4 linked regions of the Homo sapiens genome follow. The protein of the gene in region 1 purifies or fractionates together with the protein of each later gene. This does not show direct contact. Each region holds a gene or a part of one and is shown on either strand. Other genes may lie near its edges.

Region 1 (3,500 bases):
GTATAAAAAAGAGATGGAGGAAAAAAAAAAAAGAAATAGTGGCAAAGAAAATAAAAGAGAGAGCCCTTAGGGGGAGGGGAGATAATAGGAGAGAGGTAGGGTGAGGTAAGGAGGCAGAGAGAAAAAGGAAGGAGTAGAGAAGGAGAGAAAGGAGTTATGGTGATAAAAAGAGGGGAAGAAGGGAAAGAAGAAAGAGAAACTGCTAAGAGAGAAGGCAAACCCTAGAAAGAGAGCAAAGCAGAAACCAAAACACAACAGAGAGCGGCAGAGAGAGAAGAGACACCCTTACCTCCCCAGGGCCCCCAGAAAGTCTACAGGACATGAACCCTACAGTAGCTCAGAGCACCCCCTCCTCAGTGTGCAGCAGCCTCAAAGGACCCTGCACCCTTGCCAACCCTTCTCTCAGCCTCTGCTTCTCTGGGAGGGTTAAACAGCTAGTCATCCTAGAATCTCATTCCCAGACAGCCTGAAAACACCCAAGCATTAAACAAGCCTGGCAACCTACTGACAGCTGCTTCATTCAGGAAAAATCCATTCTTTTTGGGAGAGATGATCTGCACTGCCACTTTCCCAGACAGGGGAGACAATAAGTGAAACTTCCTCCCTCTACCTGAAGGGAGCCTTTGAAGCTGGGAAACGCCTTGGGGAAGAGCAGGAATGGTGGCTTCTAACTCCATCTGCCAGGCTAGGCTCCAAGTGAATCTCACCAACCAGGAGACCACACTCAAATGTTGGAACACTCCTAGGGACAAACCATGGACACCCCCAAGACTGGGAGCTAGGAAAAGAGGAAGCAAGTCTGTCAGTCCCCAAATCAATTAATACATAGTCACCAAACTCAAGGTCCCATGGATATACAAAATGCTGGAAAAAGTCCTCTGCCCTGGGAAGGTTCCAGGCTAGAGGGGGAAAAGTACAAATCCTCCTCCATGAGTCAGTGCTGGAGACCAGTGCTGTAAGAGAGTGGGAGAGAAAGAGCATGGCTTGGAACAAGATGGTCTGGTTGAAAAGTGCAGGCCTCTAGAATCAGGCAGGCCTATGTCTGAATTCCAAGAGCCTCCCCTTAAAACACCTGGGACAAAGATAATGGAACCTGCCTTGGACTTGGTCAAACAAAACCCAAGAGAGGAGGCTCAGGTTCATGCTGTGTACTCTCTGGCTTTGCACCACAGAGAGCTCCTGGAAAATTTTGTGAAGAAGAGAGATTTAGATCTAAGCTTGGAAGGATTGGCAGAATTTTAATACACAGATTTACAGAGAAAACATTTGCTGGGAGCAAGGATCACGGCACAGTTCAGGGTGTTCTGGCTTAGCCCAGGTGGACAGGGCCTGGAGAGAGTGGTAGGTCTGCAGCCCTAGGGATGGGTTGGAGCCAGACTGAGAAGGGCCGAACAGATGGACAGTGGCCCAGAGATAATGAGGAACCACAGAAAGGTTCCATGGGGGTTTCATGAAAGTGTCATGATTATAAACTGTCATTAGGAAAATTAACTCAGAAGCCACACGGAGAATGGATTAGGGAGGGAGGGGTTCTCTTCAGCATCCACCAACTCATCCACAAGATATAATCCTTTTTCGGCTTGAAAGTCCTTCAAGTGATTAAAGATAGTAGCCAAGCTCTTCTGTGTGCTCTCCTTCACACTAATAAAAATGATAGCTGTAATAATCACAAGCCTTCATATCTGAATGGAGTTTTATAGTTTCCCAAGTGCTTTCAATGCTACCAACATTTCCTCAGGGCCTATTCAGTGTCAGGCAGTGGTAGTTGGGGCCAATCATTACATGTTAATTTCCTCTCACTTCACTTGCTAGAACAGGCAGAATTAAGAGGATCTGTGAACTTGAATGAGAAAAAGTTACATCTTTATTTTCACCAACCTGTAACTGAAACTTAGCATTTCCTTCAGTTGCAATGTGAATGCAGCAACAAACCATGGCATCTTCACAAACCCTGTGATTTGTGATTTCCCAGTAGAAATTACAAATACTTTCACAGCCCGTGAAAGTTGTTGAAAATATTTTCAAATACCATTTATGGTCCACATGAGTCAAGATGACAATACTTACTAGGCTTACTGCTAGGTCTTATTTAATGATGTGTTGACTAAAAAGCAAATATATTAATATATCACATACTTAAATAGTTTAATAATTTTTAATATAATTCACTTTGGTTTTAATTCTATATATTTTACTTTTTTGCATTTAAAGGATTATTCTGAGAAGGGCTCCGTAAGCTTCACCAGAGTACCAAAGATACAAAAAGATTAAGATTACCTTGAATGTGCCAAAATAAAAACCACAGCAGGAGGGCAGAGATGTTTGTCTTTTTTACCTGCAGCTGTATCCCCATAGCCTAGAACAGTGAATGGAACGCAGAATCATTCCATAAACATTTATTGAATAAAATGTATAGCACTGAGTGACTTATCAAATGTCACACAGCTCATTAATGGTACAACCAAGACAGGTCTGATTGACTGCAATGCCCCACTGTTTCTACAACGGCACAACGCCCATCAGAAACTCCCAGAAAAGAGACAAGCTCAGCTCAAAATGGGCTGAGGAGAGGACTTTACTGTGAGACAGCTTGAAGGATCTTTAAATCCATCACTTCCCCCTTATGTTCTTTGAACACAAGAGCCAGCACTTTCTTCTGGAAGTTAAGGGTTGTGTTTATAGAGTGGCTTCCCTACTCCTAAATGTTCCTAAATGGAAGCTACTCTACTTTGGGAGTCCTTAGAGACCTAGTAGGGAAGAATATATAGACGAAGCATGCATTTTCTCTCTGGTACTATTGATTATTTCATGGTGGACCCCTAGCAAAAAGAAGTTGGGTGGGGACTTCCTAGGAGACACTTGCTTGTGTTCAAGGTGAAGATCCAGGTGGCTGCTGAATAGTCCACTCTGTCTTGTCATGTTCCTTCTCTTTCTATTCCACAAAGGAGGAGAGAGCTACAATGCTGGAAGAGCACCAGCAGATGGGCTCCCTGTAGGGACAAGTGGAGGTTTTTCTCACTTTATTCCCTTTGGAATAGGCAGGGGATATCCCTATCCTAGCTCCCATGTTCTGCAGGCACCATGACATAGACACGACCAGCTAGCGTTCCACAGGAACCTCAAAGGTTCCTGGTTCCTAAAATTGTAGTGGTAGAACAGAGGGAAGAGGGAGTTTCTCAGCCCTCATCTTTCACACATATGACCTCATATAATTTTCATCATGATTTTATGAATTAAGTGAAACAAATATTACAATGTTCACAATCCTAAAGAGAAAAGCTAAAGCCCAGAGAGGTTTTATGGCTTACTGAAGCCAGCCACAGCACAGCCGGTTCTCCTGGCCCCCTTGGCTGCATTCCGAAGGCCAGGGGAAAAGCTGGGGGAAGACTGAGAACTCACCAGGCAGGCCACAAGCACGGCGTCACTGCTGTTCCTCTCTGATGGGGATCTGCAGAGCTCGATGAGACGGGACATGCCTGTAGGAGACACAGGGAGAGCCT
Region 2 (3,500 bases), on another chromosome or scaffold:
GTATATTTTAAGAAAATCAAGTGAAATAAACACACATTAGGCCATATGTTGGATATGTGGAATTGATTAATGTTTTCATTTCCAAGAAAATGCCATTATAATTTCCTATGATTTTTAGCATTAGTGATATTTTTTATCATAGAGATTTCTTTCTTTATATCTTACAACACATACATTTATACATTCTTAATCTGGCTTTAATAAATAGTTGAGAACAGTTTGTATGAATCCCAAATACAGAGCATTTTAACAGTGTTATATGTTTAAATATAGAAAAGCCTAATACAGTGATGTTTTAAATTTTATGTGTTGTCAACACAGTATTTCTTCTTAAATAACTTATGAAAAGTGTCTGTGTGTACTTTGGTAAGAAATGTATTTTCAATGTTTCATCAAGAAAGCAGTGATTTATCTTTTAACAGCATATATTCTAAAAAATGAACTATAATGGAAGCTATCTTTCCTTAAAATGGCCAGTCGTGTGAGCTATAATATAGTTCATTGATAGTAAAATCAATAGAGCATTGATTCTAAGCTTAATCCTTAGAGACTGTTGTTTAGAGTGACAGACATAGGCTAGTAAATATCTAGTTCTGTTTAATGTGTTCAGTGCATGAGATTTTGCTATCTTGAATTTGTACACCAAATACAATTTGTACGTAGGGTAGAAAATAGTAGCTATTAACAGACACATAGCACTTTCAGTTATGATGGTGATAAAATATTTGATAAGAGATTCTTAGCTATGAGTTCAGCTGTTTTCTCTTCTGCTATAGTTTAGTTATACCCAAAGCAAATTTAATACTTAAGAGTGCTATTAGGGAATTGTCTCCATTTTCTTAGATGTTCTTTATCAATAACTATACTTTTTACCTGAAGTTATTTCATGGGAGAGGTTTGCTGAAAATGATGATTTCTATATTCACCTTTTTTCTCCCTCAACAAATCTGAAGTAGAATGTGGATTGAGAATAGATTCAGGACTTAAGGTTGATTGGACTTCATTTGAATGTTGTAATCTTATGTTAGAGCACTTGAAACCTTTTTACCTATACATTTTCTCATTTAAAATGAATCAGTATTTATAAGATAGATTTAAACATAAATTTTTGATAACATGAATGATAGTTTTTATGAAGTCATATTATTATATCTTGATGTTAATATTCAAGAATTTCGATAAACATTGAAAAAGAATAGCACCAAATTTTTCTGGTGTAGCTACTGCCAAACCATACATTACTTTGTAGACTCTTGTATATTACACAATTTGCTTTTTAAGAGTTTAGTACTAATTAATGTCCTTTGCTTTCAACATTGGTTATTCCAATTTGATGATATTGTTATTAATAACCTAAGTTGATCAGAAGGTCAGGTTTTCTAGATTTGCTAATAAAATATATTTTACATTTATATCTGATGTTTTTCTACTGAAAAAAGAAGTTGCCTGTAATAAATCCTCTGCTTTATTTTTTTAGCATATCTCCAAGGTATCAATTTAATAACTATCAAAGTAGCTACTGCAGTTGTTGCATTTAAATTGATTTACATGTCAAGACTGGCAGTTTAGCAGCTGCGCTATTATTCCTAGATCGGTCAATTTACTTGAGAAAAACCTACTACCGAGTTCTACTGACCTGCCTGACAATATAGGCCCTATTTCTATTCCTGTAATTAGGCCTGCGACTAACTCAGAATATTTTTAATTAAAATATTTTGGTCAATGTGTTGCACCAAATTAGGCCTTTCAGTGAAGATTTAATTCTGGAAATAGTGTGATTAGAATATTTAATGAGTTGTGTTCAATTAACAGGTTGTGTGTGTTGAACACACAGTGTTTGTATGTGACCATTTTGAGTTTTACAGTCATAAATGTTACTCCTTATTTTTAACCTCAAAGATATTTGTTCAATGATTGTCTGACAAGTAAATTTAAATTGAGTTGAAAATTTATTTTAAAGTAACTTTTTTATCCTGATAGTACCAAGAAAGCTGATTTAAAATGCATCAGCTTTTTAAAGGACTAGGAAAGCTTTTACTTGTTAATGTTCTTCTCTTCCAGCAAAAGCCAAAAATGAGGAAATTGCCACTTAATTGTTTACAAATAAACAGTTTTATTGAGAAATCCAACATAAACACTGGTTGTTACCACATCTCTTTTTAATTTGGGAGTTTTTTATTTTCTAAAGGAATATAGCAATACAAAATTAAAAGACACTCAATTTTATAGGCTTTTACCTCATTAAAAAGCTTTGATAAAATCATGTGTATAAATACTTCAGCCTTGAGCCACCGTAGTTTAGGGGTAGACATAAAAGCACTGACTAGAAAATTTATTCTGAATTTGATTCAATTAATATGTAATTCACGGTAACAAACAGCTCTTATCTTGATCTTTCTCCTATTGAGATCCTCCTTTTTGTTGCTGACTTCAATGGTAGAGTCTTTACTATAGACTAGTAGACAGGTAGACTACACGTAGCTCCTTTAGTTTAGATGTCACTCCAGGAGTCACATCTTTGGGTGCTGTAAAAACATGAGATCTGGTATCCACAGTATATTACTGGACACTTTTTTGAAGGGTGTCAGTGACTAGAGCTATCTACAGTGCTTTGAATTTACTCGATATTATAATGCTGGGAACGTACATAAACATTATCTATTTTGGATAATTTGTTTTCTTTTTCCTTTTTGTAATATAGGCACAAATAGTTTTTTTTGTTTTTATTTTAAACTCCCCGTGAAAAACTGTTATATTTGTACTGTAGGTATGATGATATTCTGATCAATGGACTTCCAGATTGGCGACAGCCTGTATTCTACTACAGGCGGGTGAGAAAAATGAGCAATGCTGAGCTGGCATTACTCTTGTTCATTATTCTCACAGTGGGTCATTATGCTGTGGTTTGGTCAATCTACCTGGAAAAACAACTGGTAAGTGTTAGTAATAAATCAAATGAACTAGCCTCCTTAATTTTATATGGAATTTTGGACATTTATTTTTCAACTGATGAAAATTTCTGTTTCTCTCTGTATACTTCTCATTCTAATAGTTTTATACTCAATGTTTGACATATTTCTAAGTCAAGAAGAACCCATGAAATAAGAAAATATTCTTCTTTTAAAAAATGTGGCACTTAAGTTTGTTATAAAACTTTGTGAAAGCCCAAATATCTAGCTGGGAATTAGAAGGTAGAGCCATGTTTTCATTATCACCTTCCAAATAGAAATATTTTTTATTTAAGACTGATTTTAGATTTTTTTGTGTCACAGGCCTTTATATAATGAATGTTTACTTTTAAAATGTTTTAGGTAAATAAATAAAATTGGAAATGAATATAATATTCTAACTTCAATTGGTTAAAAAAATTATTACACTTTTCTTGGTTTAATATGCTACTCTATAGTTTATTCTTTGGGTTTTTATTTATATGTTAAAGATAATCAAACATATTTATCAGTATTCATGAATTAGCATCTGTTTACTCATTCCTTTTGAAG
Region 3 (3,943 bases), on another chromosome or scaffold:
GGATGGATGAGTCAGTATAAATGAAGAGCATCCCAAGTTGACTATTTTAAAGGGATAACATGCATTTTATATTTGTTAAACATTCATTCTCATTTGTAAACACTTGTATATATTCATGTATTCAAAATGTATTGAAAATTAATTGTTTTCCTTGGTACCTGAAGTCAGTCCTGGGTATTGCAAAGTAGTTCGAAGTCACTGGTTTCCCTCTGTCTCACTTCACTACACACTGGTGATTTTGCTAAGTGATGAGCCAGAAAATGTACAAGTTCCAGAATCAAAGGTAAAACAAAACCCACCAAGAATCAGCTCACTGTTAGCGTCCTAGTTGAAAAATAAGGCTTATCAAAGTATTTCAGATTGCATTAACACTTTTGATATAGCTAGGTATCAGTGTCAACCTCAGGAGAGGGCAACGCCAACTCCTGAAACCTTCAATACAGAAAGTCTAGAAAAATAAGCAAATATACATACAAACAATAGCGAGAAGACTCCAGAAACCACATAAAACCGTGGGAATCGAAATATCCCTTACGTGTGTTCAGTACATGTGAACCCACGTATTTTAAGTGGACGATTTCTCTCTCAGAGTACCGTAGGTAGTGGGGGACGGGGCGCAGAGGGGGAGAAACAGAAAGTCGCCTTCCTCCATGGTTCATTTGCATTTCCATCCAGAAACTCACAGGTCGACCCCAAGACTCCACTCTCTCCCGCCTTTGAGAAGCCGGACCGGCATCGGCGGCTGCATCCTTCTCCTCCTCCCCGCTCTATTTTGGGGCCCCATGATCTCATGCCCTCTGCAGACCACACGCTGCAATTCCAGCCCAGCCCGCGCCGCGAGGCCACGCAGGGCGATTCCTGCAAGTGTCGGGAGGGTGGCCGGGGCGCGGGGAGGGGACGGCTTGGGGGGAAGTTTAAGACACGCCCACGTAAGGGACCCAAAATAACCGACACACAGAGTGCCCGAAATCAGACAGGAAGCCAAATAATCCGGGGCGTTGAGTCGCTTTGCCCTGACTGCGAGAGCCGGGTGTAGGGCGGGGAGCCAAGGATCTGACCGCGAGGGGCGGGCGCGGCGGGGAGGGGCGGGGCGGGGCGGGCGGCGCGGGGCCTATTAAAGGCGCGGCCGGGCAGCGGGGCCGGAGCGGCCGGGGCCACGATGGAGCGCGACGGCTGCGCGGGGGGCGGGAGCCGCGGCGGCGAGGGCGGGCGCGCTCCCCGGGAGGGCCCGGCGGGGAACGGCCGCGATCGGGGCCGCAGCCACGCTGCCGAGGCGCCCGGGGACCCGCAGGCGGCCGCGTCCTTGCTGGCCCCTATGGACGTGGGGGAGGAGCCGCTGGAGAAGGCGGCGCGCGCCCGCACTGCCAAGGACCCCAACACCTATAAAGTACTCTCGCTGGTAGGTCCGCGGCCAGGCCCCGGCGCCCGGGAGGGCTGGGAGTACGGGGAGGGCGGCGCCGAGCTCCTGCGCTCTCAGCGCAGTCAGCACCGGGCACCGGAGAGAGGCATGGTCCGGGAGTGCTTCTTCGCCCGCGCGCTCTCCTCCGCAGCCTTTGCAAGTGCCCTACACAGCCGCCCCTGCCAGGTACCTTGCCAGGGCAGGATGGTTCACTCTCACTTGAATTATGGATGCCTGTGAAAGCAGGCTGTTCAAAACGGTCATCCTTAGAAATACTCGACCCCCTGCCCCAGGAGAGTACGGGTTTTTAGAGGAGAAAAATGTCAAACGCGAAAGTTGTTGGTCTTAAGAAGGTGCATCAATGTGTTGCTTCTTTTAGGGGGCTCTGGGCGCAGTATACATGACTTCACTTGGGTTAACTGATTGCAGTTGAAGAGTTAGCGGAGCTCTTTAAGTTTTATTAGGAACTCTACGGAACACTTTTTCCCTTTCGCTCCGTTTTGGAATTTCCTTGCAGGTGCTCAGAAATTCCATGGATGTTCACATTATGTGACTGAAGAAACCTTTATGATTCTTTGCCCACTCTTCTAACCAGAGGCTACACGGTTTGTGTTGCTAACAAAAGCTACCTATTACTCCTCTGCTATTTTGCTATGACATTTGCAGGACCCACAGTCAACTTCATGAAATGTGGGGGTTGGTTTTTATTCTGAATTCATGGTGGGAAGTGCTGATTGAGAGAAGGCCTGGATTCCTGGCTGTTATTATTTGCTGAGGCCTTGCGTAACTGTCCCTAAACCTCAATTTCTAATGTGTGAAAATGGGACAACATCAACTCCCTTGTGCATTGCATGGGATTATTGTGAAAATCAAGCTGAAGAATGTAGGTAGGGAAGTAAATTGAAAACAGCAAGGAAATAGAATCATTTTTATTGTATTATATGGAAATCACAGATTTCTATGTATAGTGTACCCTAAAATATATCCCCTTACATATGATTGAATAATGCTTTGTAGAAAAATTTCTAATTTTTCAAGTCTCCTTTCATTTTGTATGCATTTCCATTTTCACTATATTTGGGACATCATGGAGATGCTATAATACTTTGAGGAATCAATCTTCCTAGACTTAAGAGATGGTGCCGTATGCTTAGTACTTAAAAAGAAGCCTTAGTTTCACAGAATAAGTACCCCAAGCCACATGATGTTTGCATCTCAAGATAAAATTTTGCATCTTGTAACACTGTTTTGAGTCTATAATAACACAATATTGATGAGAACTTAGTCTCTTGAGTCACCTTTTAAAAATTTTGTTAATGGAAGACCTTAGCTTTTACAACCTGATCACTTAAATTGTTTAGTATTAATACCTTGAGGTGTTTCACACACGATGAGGTAGTCGATAATTGTATATGGAATCAGTGTGTAACTCTTGTGTAAAACCATTTCTACATGCCTATAAACCTTTACAGGTTTTCCAATTGCAAAATTCAGGTTTTAAATTTTTCTTGCTCATTTACTTATACATCCACAACAGATATCAGCAAAGGTCTAGTTTTGGAATAAGCTGTCCAGTCTTTGAGACCTGCAGTCAACTGGTCAAACAGCATTCTGTGTGATGATGCTACTCTGGGCATTTGACATGGAAGTGTCCTAGGACTTACTTCCACAAGTAGGACTATTATGGACCTTTTTTATCCATTAATTGGGGTCTTTTGCATCTATTGAATTGGAAAGAATTCTTACTTCATATCTTTTGATGGAACACTGTGAGACATTAACATACAAATGTTACCAAATAGACCTGGTGCGGTGACTCATACCTATTATCTCAGCACTTTGGGAAGTTGAGGCGGTTCCATTGCTTGAGCCCAGGAGTTTGAGACCAGCCTGGGCAACATGATGAAACCCATCTCTACAAAAGATACAAAAATTAGCTGGGTATGGTAGCATGCGTCTATGTCCCAGCTACTTGGGAGGCTGACATGGGAGGTTCAGCTGAGCCAGGGAAAGTTAAGGCTGCAGTGAACTGTGATTGTGCCACTGCACTTCAGCTTGGGTGACACGGTGAGACCCTTTATTGTTGAAATTGCTATTTAGCTACTGAACTGAAAGTGCAAACTCGTATTCTTCTTTCCCTTCCCTACTTCAATACCTTTTTCCCCCAACCCCGCCCCCCCCCCAAAAACTTCCCCAAATAATGGGCTTCCAAATGGAAAAGGCCCCAAAAGCATCCTGACAATTGTCGTCAAAGAGCTCTGGGATATGTCTTCTAGAAAGGAGCTGCAATTATAGAATTCCTTTTGTTTTCAGATTAAACCTCAGCACACTTTTCATAAAGCTGCAGAAACAGATTGAACTAATTGCAACCTGGGGTTGGGATTAGGAGAGGCCCAGCACTATGATCCTCAGCTACACTGTTTTAATTTAGCAGGATAAATAGAAGAGTTGCGTTGCCTTGCCTTTCAGAGGCAATCATGTTGCAGTGGCAATGTAATTTTTACATTACTCTGCAGTTTTCTCAGATAAACTAAAATGATGTAG
Region 4 (3,500 bases), on another chromosome or scaffold:
GTTGGGTCAGGCAGCTGTGCCCCACCACCCCACTGCGGCTAGAGGGGATGGGGGTCCCTTGGGTGGAGACACGGCCAGTAGGGTGAGCCCCGGGCCAGGAGGGATGGACAGGAGCCCGGGGAAGGTCCCACGGCAGAGCTGGTCTGGGGGATTCATCTGAGGCCTTTGCGTCCCCGACCCTGGCCTGGGCTGCCCGCAGTGAGCTGGGAGTGGACCCACAGGCCCGCCCCACCTGCCTCCGGGGCACAGCATGATGCACCCTCAGGAGGGGGGATTGGGTGGCCTCACAGAGGTGACCAGGGGCCACAGGAAGGGTGATCCAGGCAGAGGGAACAGCAGGACTGACGGGGGAGGCCCTGTGTGCGGCAGGGGAGAGGCCTGTCCAGAGCCGGGCCCTTCCAGCACAGGGAGCCAAAGCCAGACCCCACCTGGCCCCAGCCAGGACGCGCTCTGTCTCGACACCTGTCCCCTTTGACTCTGACAGTACAGTCGGGGAGACGCAGAGGACACTCAGACATGGCGCTCGCCTCCACAAGGGGGGCTGGCTGTCAGAAAGCCATGGCCGGGCTGGTCCTTGGCCCCCCAGAGACTCTGGCCTGGCCCACCCAATGCGAGGTGCCAGGGTGGTGCTGGGCTGACCGGGTCCCTCTGTCTTCAGGGGCCAGACCCAAGAGGACGCAGAGGCTGAGCGCGGAGACCTGGGACCTGCTGAGACTCCCCCTGGAGCGGGTGAGCCAGGGACACGGGACCGATGTCAGCACAGCCGCTGCCAGAGCATGGGCAGCGGGGTTAATGAGGCAGAGCCACCGCCACCCACCTCAGCCCCTGTCTGCTGGGAGATAAATGTGCCCTCCTCGGCCTGATGCCCTGCATGGCCCATCTGCCACCTGCTCACCCATGTCCCTCAGCGTCTGGCCAGCTGTGCCCCAGGCGAGGCATGGTCCTCACACATTTCAGGCCCCCATACTCCACCCAGCTGCTATGCCACCACACCCTCGGGAGCCCACAGACAGGGGCACCCACTCCTGCCTGCTCCCTGCCCTCTCGGACTCTGACCCAAAGTGGGCACAGCTGCTGCAGGTGCAGACACTGGCTGGGGTTCAGCAGACCCACACAGACAGATTCGGGGGCTGCCTGGCGTAGGGCCCTGGGCTGGCCCTGTGCCTGTCGGCAGTGGGTGCTGTGTGGCCTGGGCCAGCAGCCTGATCTCTCTGAGCCTCTGGTTCCTCTGGTGTGGCCTGTGTTCAGTTGTGGATGGCCGTCAGGGTTCTGCTGTGGGGACGAGACCCAAGGACGCCCACAGTCACTGTCATTGCTGGTATAAGCCGGCTGACATTTGCGGGGGCCACTGGCCCTCAAACACCCCACCCTGCCTCTCCCGGCCCCAGCCAAGGGCCCACAGCCCCAGTCCTCTCCTCCTCTCTGGGTACTGGGCACCTACGGCGTGCATCCATGAAATGGAGGCGGCCTGGCCTTCCCTTCAGGGTCCTGGGATGGGGACATTGGTTCACAATTGCCCAGGCCACGCACAGCCTTACCCCTCCCCAGGAGCAGAATGGAGACAGCCACCATTCAGGGGACTGGCGGGGGCCCAGCAGGGACTCGCTACCCCTCCCCGTGAGGAGCAGGAAGTACCAGGAAGGCCCGGACGCTGAGAGGAGGCCCCGGGAGGGCAGCCACTCCCCGCTGGACAGCGCCGACGTCCGGGTGCACGTGCCACGCACGGTAGGCGTCTTTGACGGCAGATCCAGGCCGAGAGGGAGGAGAGCTTGGCAACTGCGCCCCAACTCCACTGCCAGCCAACGGGGCCAGGTCAGGCCCGGGCACTCCGGGGAGGCAGGGGTCCCTCCCCGGTGCACCTGGTGCAGTGCTGTCCTGGGACCCCGGTGGGGGCTCTGGGCAGGGCTCAGTGTTTAGCATTGTGGTCGCACCTGGCCTCAGAGGCCCCGGCCACCGAGGAGCCTCCTGGGGACTCTAGGCTGGGCTCTTCTGCATGGAACGCCCCGCCTCTCTTTGGGCCTCAGTTTCCATCTTGTTCACCAGTTGGGGGCTGGCTCTTCCCAGCCTTCAGGTGGCCTCTCTCTCTGACTCCAGCCCCCACCCTCCTTTGTTGGGACCCTCCAGACCCATCCGCTAGTCACAGGAGCGTGTCCCTGAAAGGAACTGGCTGCCTTCACTGTGAGAGCCGGGCTGCACAGATCCCCTGATGGGGTGCCCCTTCCTGAGGTGGCTCTTGGAGGCTCTGGCCAGTGAGGTCAAGCCTGTGTATCCTACCAGGGCCCTGGAGGGGTGGACGAGGCCAACACAGTCCCTGGGGGAATCCTGGGATCTCTGACACCTGGCGGGGGTCCCTGAGCAGAGGGGCCTGAGGGGCACCCAAGGGGTGGGTGGGAAGCCCCTAAGCCACACCCATGGTCAGGCCCTGGTGTGGAAGCACCTGCAGCTCCAGCTGGGCCAAGGTACTGGGGCCTCTCCTTGTGGGTGCAGGGGCCGGGGCAGGACCGATGGTGAGTGGGGTCATGGAGGGGATGCAGCTGGGTGGCCTGTGCATGGCTGCAGAGCCCCTGGTGAGGGGACAGCAAGGGGCTAGGTCCACTCAGGGTTCCTCCTGGTCAGGGGCTGGGAGGCCCCACCCTGCCCTACCCCACCTGGGCTCAAGGTCACGAGTGGAGCAGAGGGTCACAGCCCAGCAAGCAGCAGCAGCGCAGCCTGGGCGCCACCCGGGTCCTCAGGGCTAGCCAGGAGCCCCCCGCGTTGCTGTGGCACACAGAGGTGGCGGGAGGGGTGGGGCAGTTGCAGTGACTGCCAAGTGTATGGGTGGACGGACGGGGGACAGACAGACTGGTGGTCAGACTCGGGGTTGGTGGGGGGACAGGTGACAGGCCGGGCCTGTGCCTGGCAGGTGTCAGCTGTGCCAGGGCCACCCCAGCCACGGGAGAGCTGGTTGGTGTTCAGGGGCACCGATGGGCCGAGTCCGGGTTCGGAGGTCAGCCTGGAGCTCCCCCGAGCAGGACGGCTGGGTCCAAACCACTAGAAATAGTCTGAAATTGTTCTTCCGTGGGCACCAACCTGCAGAGGGGTGTGGGTGCTGGGCTGGGATTCGCAGCCCCCCGAGGCTGCCCAAGCCCATCCTTCCCACCAGCAGGGCACAGCCTACCTTCCCCTCATTCAGCCCCAGCACTGCCCAACCATCTGGGCTAGGTCCATCCGTCCACTGATGGGAGAGGTGTGGAGGGAAGGGCACCCAGGGAGCACCTGGTCAGGCCTTCCCGGGGGTCCCGGTGATCCCCCAGCCTCCCTGGGCCTGGAGGGAGGAGCAGGACTGGGACCCAGACACCTGCCCTGTCCACAGCTGGCCCTGCCCTGTCCACAGCTGGGTCTGCCCTGTCCACAGCTGGCTCTGCCCATCACATCTGGGCCGCCAAGGAAGGAGTGGGAGGCTGGCAGCATGTGTGGGACAGACCAGTCAGCCGGCCTCAGGGGCTGATGGCTTTCTAGAA

The links. The genes of interacting proteins can lie anywhere in the genome.
Region 2: the proteins of INSC (region 1) and DNAJC1 purify together in Homo sapiens (affinity purification with mass spectrometry; one large-scale study listed by BioGRID and IntAct). This does not show direct contact.
Region 3: the proteins of INSC (region 1) and ENPP1 purify together in Homo sapiens (affinity purification with mass spectrometry; one large-scale study listed by BioGRID and IntAct). This does not show direct contact.
Region 4: the proteins of INSC (region 1) and GPSM1 purify together in Homo sapiens (affinity purification with mass spectrometry; one large-scale study listed by BioGRID and IntAct). This does not show direct contact.

What each region holds. Positions count from the first base shown.
Region 1 is NC_000011.10:15,240,423-15,243,922, reverse strand, and holds part of INSC (protein inscuteable homolog), read right to left. Parts: intron 3,477-3,500; coding exon 3,400-3,476; intron 2,357-3,399; coding exon of another isoform or gene 2,240-2,356; exon of another isoform or gene 183-2,239; intron 1-182. UniProt on the Homo sapiens protein: May function as an adapter linking the Par3 complex to the GPSM1/GPSM2 complex. Involved in spindle orientation during mitosis. May regulate cell proliferation and differentiation in the developing nervous system.
Region 2 is NC_000010.11:21,920,231-21,923,730, reverse strand, and holds part of DNAJC1 (dnaJ homolog subfamily C member 1 precursor), read left to right. Parts: intron 1-2,767; coding exon 2,768-2,933; intron 2,934-3,500. UniProt on the Homo sapiens protein: May modulate protein synthesis.
Region 3 is NC_000006.12:131,806,877-131,810,819, forward strand, and holds the start of ENPP1 (ectonucleotide pyrophosphatase/phosphodiesterase family member 1), read left to right. Parts: upstream 1-1,143; 5' UTR 1,144-1,159; coding exon 1,160-1,399; intron 1,400-3,943. UniProt on the Homo sapiens protein: Nucleotide pyrophosphatase that generates diphosphate (PPi) and functions in bone mineralization and soft tissue calcification by regulating pyrophosphate levels.
Region 4 is NC_000009.12:136,348,039-136,351,538, forward strand, and holds part of GPSM1 (G-protein-signaling modulator 1), read left to right. Parts: intron 1-658; coding exon 659-729; intron 730-1,548; coding exon 1,549-1,725; intron 1,726-3,500. UniProt on the Homo sapiens protein: Guanine nucleotide dissociation inhibitor (GDI) which functions as a receptor-independent activator of heterotrimeric G-protein signaling.